Linked DNA regions of Homo sapiens: region 2 is reported to be linked to region 1. Evidence: microRNA targets listed by miRTarBase, many of them from high-throughput screens and not tested one by one. Region 1 holds a microRNA gene; the other region holds the end of a gene's coding sequence.
What was found. The annotated mature microRNA hsa-miR-1200 reads CUCCUGAGCCAUUCUGAGCCUC and lies in region 1 at 1,613-1,634, shown strand. An mRNA with a match to its seed (bases 2 to 7 or 8) in the 3' UTR can be bound and repressed. Matches are read on the target gene's strand: a 7mer-m8 pairs with bases 2 to 8, a 7mer-A1 pairs with bases 2 to 7 and ends in A, and an 8mer does both.

Region 1 (3,231 bases):
TGGACCTCTTTTATAACTTCAGTAACCCTATTCATTACAGCAGAATCTTCATGACCTAATCCTCTCCCTTCAAAGGCTCCACCTCTTAATATTTTATTGCACTGGGGACTATATTTCAGCATATGAATTTGGTGGGGAGACACAAACATTCAGACCATAGATGAAGACCTTGACACTGCTCATGGAGACCTATAAAAAGGATTTGGGGTTCATAGAGAAGAGAGTGACTTGTGGGAGAGTTAAGAAGGACTTTTCAAGCAAGACGGCATTTCAGGAGACACAAGGTGGTCAGTCTAACAGTAGAAAATGAAATCAGCAGTAGAAAACAACATGGAAAATTCTGTTCTTAAATTACCATGTTGGAGAGGGATTTAATATGGCTATGTTTTATGCCAGATTTTTTTAAAAGCCTTTCATGCATAAAACTATAGTGATCTATTTAGATTCATTAAAATATGTGCACATATATATGCATGAATTTCATTATGTGGATATGTAAATTAATGTATTGGGTGAGAGATTATGTTTTAGAATATAAACCAAAAACCATGTTGTGATTAACTTTAAAGAACCATCTAGTTTTGGACATTGTGGCAGTTGTTTTTAATATCCACAAATCAGCTGAATTAGGAAACATAAACTATATGTTTGGACTTCATATTTAGAGCTATATGAGGTCAGCCTCTTCCTCCAGAGGCACTGCCAGATGATAGTTGCTTGCATGGGGCAACAGTCCAATGAAACAATTAATCCAAATCTCATTCAGAGATGAGAAGCAACTTATTTCATTCACTCATTCATTCATTTTCACATACTCATTGACTTCTATTCAGCAAATATTTTTCAGGTAGTTCATAAGCCCTGTAGTTGACTGTGTGGTGGCCTGGCCAAGGGGCATATTAGCCAGAGTAGAAGAGGCAAGAGCTGGGTCTTAGTGGCCAGGCTGAAGGGATAAAGTGTGAGGTTGGCCCTTGCAGAAGAAAGTGATTGGACATCATTCCAGAGTAGAGTGCCCAAAGGAAAGAACCAAAGCATCCCTGATCCAGGCCACTGTTGATGTCAAAAGGGGTGGGGCTTTTGGCATCTCATAGGGCGTTCCCAGTCGTGACACATTATAGTTCTGAATGGTTCACATAATTAAGGCATTGATTCGTTCCTTAAATGAATCAGAGGAAGGGAGATGGAAATGATTAGACAGGTTGTTTTATTTGCAGTCACATTAGCAATAGGGTTCAGGAAGGGCTCCCATTCTGATGGGAGCTTTGGATTGCAGAAACTCTTCCCCGTGAGCCCAGCATCGATCACAGAGCTTGGAAATACAAACTAGAGTTTCATGAGCAATGGGGAATCAGAGCTTCTTTTAGGATACTTGATACTGAGTGTGCAGCAACACACTTTGATTGGCAGCAGCCTCCCTTCCACAGTTGCCAGGCCTACTCTGTTCTAGGCACTGAGTGTACATTATCTAATTATCATAGCAACCCAGCAAGGTTGATGCCATTATCCCATTTTACAGATGAAGAGACTTAGCCCATAAGTGAGAGAACCAGGTTTCAAATCCAGAGTTCTGTGACCCCAAAGCCCACATTCTTCCTAGTTTACTATGCTACTTCTCCTGAGCCATTCTGAGCCTCAATCACTTGCCAGAGAGATTGGTTCAGGAATTTGTCAGGGATAGCCTGAAGTCCCAAAGTCTTCAGCCAGCATCTGAGCAGTGTTAGAAAAGGCTGAGACTCACACGATGCTATATGCTGTGGGAAATGTAATAGACATGAACGATTATCCTAGTCACTATTAACCAAATGCTGGATAACATGGAGCACATAGTGACATTCAACAGAGTTACATTCTCTGCCTTCTAGGATCTTGCAACCCAAGGTGCATATTTACTTGCTTGAATATTGAGCTGTGAGAAGAAAAGTTGCTACGTTTGTGCAAGTTCTATTTATTATGGATGCTAAATTCCTATAAGTTAGCTGAACCATCCCTAGAATAAAGTACTTTATTTTAGCCCAAGTGCCAACTGACTGACTGACTGACTGAATGAATGAATGAATGAATGAAGGCATGCTTGCTTGCTCTTATAGATTAACTCTCTTGCTATGGGTAAACCAAAAGAAAAAAAATATTTTTCCTTACCCCTTAAAGTGAGTCTACTTTGTTTTGTGGGAGGTAGCAATTTATAGACCTGTCTACACATTATTTTCTAAAACTCAAGTATTTTGGAAGAGCAGATGGGGTACCATACTGTATACACTAATCATATATTTTGAAATGTATTTCTTTTTGAGCAGTTTGGTGACGCTTTATTTAGCAAAAGCCCTTGAAAGTTTCAAAAGCAACAATCCAAAGAACATGAGTGGCTGAGAGCACAGCGGACAGACAGACCCTCCAGCACAAGGCTAATGCTTTTCAAAATGTACTGTGGACCCTGGCCCTGGCCCCTATTCCTCCTGCCCTTAGAGATGATGATACACATTGTCACTGGGGGAGGGAACGAGTGGATTGGGCCTGATTATCTGAATTTTCTGTGAATCCCCTGGGTGACTGTGATATGCACCCAGGGTGGAGAACTAGCCTTCTACACTCATATCTGAGTGCTACTCTTCTTACCTCATTCTCTTGAGACTCATATTTTCACTTATAAAATTATTAGAGAAGCAAAAGAAAACCCCATCCCTTTTACATTTTCTGAGAGCCACAGGGGGAGCAAATAGGTGTTGAGCACCTCCTACATTGCCAGAAGTTTGACTTATAGATCTGGTTTAATCTGTACAAGAACTCAACAATGTTTAAAGAATTAATTGGCCCTCAGATATGGAGTTGAGTTATGCATACTGCTCAGTTCATAGCTTATTGTCACCCTAAGGCCATGCAAGACCCTCCTCTTATTTTGTTATTGTTCCTCTTCACCCCCCATTCCCTACACCCATTTCCTTCCCTCCTCAGAGAACCACCTAATATGCTAGAACTAAAATGAATGTCTTTACAAAATTATATATTATTTTTGTGTGTGTTTGTTTTAATTTACATAAATGATAAATCTCTGTAATATAGACTATATAGAAAGTAAGAATGCTTATTTTTTCACTCAGTATTATGTTTTCAGATATATCTATGTTGTATAAACTTCCCACATTTGCATAATATTTCATTGTCTGCATTTATTCCATTTTGTTTATATCTTCCCCAGTTGATAGACACTCAGCTCCCTGCTACCACAGAGAATTC
Region 2 (3,000 bases), not on the chromosome of region 1:
CATGCTTTATTTCAGAACAGATTTTTTTTTTTTTTTTTTTGAGGTAGAGTTTCGCTCGTTGCTCAGGCTAGAGTGCAGTGGCGCGATCTCGGCTCACTGTAACCTCTGCCTCCCGGGTTCAAGCAATTCTCCTGCCTCAGCCTCCCGAGTAGCTAGGATTACAGGTGCCTGCCACCGTCCCTGGCTAACTTTTTGTATTTTTAGTAGAGATGGGGTTTCACCGTGTTGGCCAGGCTGGTCTTGAACTCCTGACCTTAGGCGATCCACCTGCCTCGGCCTCCCAGAGTGCTGGGATTACAGGTGTGAGCCACCGCGCCTGGCCTCAGAATAGGTTTTTTGGAATTCCTTGTTAGAATAAAAATGAGTATGTCACTTTCTGAACACACTCTTCTTTCTTACAGGCAATCTGTACAGAAGCTGGTCTGATGGCCTTAAGAGAACGTAGAATGAAAGTAACAAATGAAGACTTCAAAAAATCTAAAGAAAATGTTCTTTATAAGAAACAGGAAGGCACCCCTGAGGGGCTGTATCTCTAATGAACCATGGCTGTCATCAGGAAAATGGTTGGGAGATTTCTCAATCCCTGAAAGGGATGAGGTTGGGGGAGTTGCCCAGAGGAATCCCTGTTCCCACTGATTTTTATTAGCAAAACATCCTGTGTCTTTTGGAGTACGATGTGTAAGTGCCCATTGGGTGGCCTGTTGGTCACTGTGCAGCAGTCTGCTTCCCAATAAAGCGTGCTCTTTCACAAACACTTCCTGTTTCTGCAGTCTCCACACACACCTACCGCTCAACAGCAGCCTGTGGGTGGACCCAGCTACAGGGAAGCCTTTGGACAGGAACTCAGGCTGCGGTCCCAAGGAGTGTGGACCTCACTATGCGTTCGCCACATCACACCCCCAGAGCTGGCGTTCAACGGTAATTACAGTGGGAAATGGTCACTACCACAGAGCCAGGGATATTCGTTGTTTAAATAATAAAGGCTGCGTTAATGTGGCTATTGCTTCCAAAGGAAGTACAGCTTTCCTTTTTGGAAGTTTTGTGGACCATGCATGTTCTTAGCACTCTGAGGGCAGAAAATAACTACTGGTGTTCCCAAGAGACTGAGGATTCCTAGAGATATCTTGAAAGCCCTTCTGAGCCCTTGGGCTCAGAAATCTCATCCCTTTCAAGGTGTTCAGAAACATGTCAGAACTTCCCCTTCCCTTTCTCCGTCTATTTCCGTCATTTCTCTTTCTGAACAAATCAGGCCTAAAGCTATTAAGTGGGACAGATCAAGGTAAGCGTTCCCTTGACAGGTGGCCTGGTGTGGGTTGTAGGGCCCACACTGAATGAGGAGTGTGTATTAGTTTTCTGTTAATACTATAACAAGTTACCACAGGCTTTGTTTAAAAACAGCACAATTTGGCCAGGCACGGTGGCTCACGCCTGTAATCCCAGCACTTTGGGAAGCTGAGGCAGGCGGATCACAAGGTCAGAAGTTTGAGGCCAGCCTGGCCAACATGGTGAAACCCCATCTTTACTAAAAATACAAAAATTAGCTGTGCGTGGTGGCAGGTGCCTGTAGTCCCAGCTACTCAGGAGGCTGAGGCAGGACAATCGCTTGAACCCAGGAGGCGGAGGTTGCAGTGAGCCAAGATCCCGTCACTGCACTCCAGCCTGGGCGACAGAGCAAGACTCCGTCTCAAAAATAAATAAATAAATAAATAAAAACCACAATTTTATCTCAGTTCTGTAGGTCAGAAGTCCAACACGAGTGTCTCCAGGCTAAAGTCTTGCTGTTGGCAGGACCGTTCCCTCTGGCGTCTCTAAGGGAGAATCCGTTTCCTTGCTGAGGATTATTGTTGGCAGAATTTAATTTCTTGGAGTTGTGGGCCAGCTGAGGTCAGCATTTCCTTGCTGGCTGCCAGCTGAGGCCTTTGCCAGTCTGTGAAGGCCACCCTCCCTCCTGACTCGTGGCACTTCATTTTCCACCAGCAGCAGCAGGCCCAGTCCCTCTCTCCCACCGACCCTTCTTTCTGCCTGCCTTTTCTATTCTTATGGATCCTTGTGATTGCATTGGACCCATGCAGATGATCCAGGATAATTTCCCTGTTTTAAAGTTTACAATCTTCTTAATTTTTATCTGCAAAGTTCCTTTTGCCATGTAACATTCACACGTTCCAGGGCTTAGGGTGTGGCCATCTTTAGGGGCGCCACTCTGCCTACCACAGAGGACATCCACACGTGGGGGTGGCCCAGTGCAGGGTAAGGACGGGGTGCTTGTGGGGAGGGCGGGTGTCAGCCCAAGTAGGGTGTGGAGCTGTCCATGTGGAGGAACACCACAGCACGGGGACTCAGCATGGGCAGGGTGAGGCTGGCATCCGTGTGGGGTGTATGTGCAGGGCTGGGGTGGTCCGATAGGGGGAGTCAGTGTGGGCAGCCTGATGTGCAGTATGAGAGCCCAAGTGGGTGAGGAAGGCATCTGCAGGGACGGGGTGGTGGCAGGGGAGGGAGGCTGCTTATGTATGGAGGCAGTCAGGCAGGTAAACAGGACAGTGGGAGCCAGGTTTCTCTGAGGAGTTAGACACAGAAAGAAGAAAACAAGAACGACCTCTGTCCACTGGGAGCACCTGGGAACAGTGACACCCCAACTGCAGTGAGCACCCCTAGACCCAGACCTTTGCTGCTAAAAGTATTATTCTCCACTAAAAGGAGTGAGGGCTGATTCCGGGGCTAGGCAGGGAAAGGACAGGATGAACCCAAAGTCTGTTTTGCCAGAAAGCAAGGGAGTGCTCAAGGAATGATAAGGACATGTCCTAAGGACACCGAAGCCTATGTGAAGGGGCTTCCACTGGCCAAACTCGGGACAATCTGAGCATCCTAACAAACAGTTACTATTAATGGAATACAGTATAGCCCTTTAAATAGGGAACTACACACACACACACACACACACACACACACACACACACACACACACACACACCCCAATACATATGAATTGATCTGAAAGTTTGC

Region 2: the mRNA of PSMC1 is a reported target of hsa-miR-1200. Seed matches in the 3' UTR shown: 7mer-A1 at 553-559 and 7mer-m8 at 1,577-1,583.

What each region holds. Positions count from the first base shown.
Region 1 is chr7:36,917,806-36,921,036 of GRCh38, reverse strand. MIR1200 (microRNA 1200) reads left to right here and starts at 1,605; the gene lies at 1,605-1,680. The region is part of intron 16 of ELMO1 (engulfment and cell motility 1); the gene reads left to right.
Region 2 is chr14:90,271,872-90,274,871 of GRCh38, forward strand. PSMC1 (proteasome 26S subunit, ATPase 1) reads left to right here. Exons shown (of 11, transcript NM_002802.3): 11 at 402-3,000. The coding sequence ends at 536. It overlaps NRDE2 (NRDE-2, necessary for RNA interference, domain containing), which reads right to left. Exons shown (of 14, transcript NM_017970.4): 14 at 1-3,000. Among named protein-coding and RNA genes, the nearest start is that of PSMC1, 17 kb to the left of the region's middle.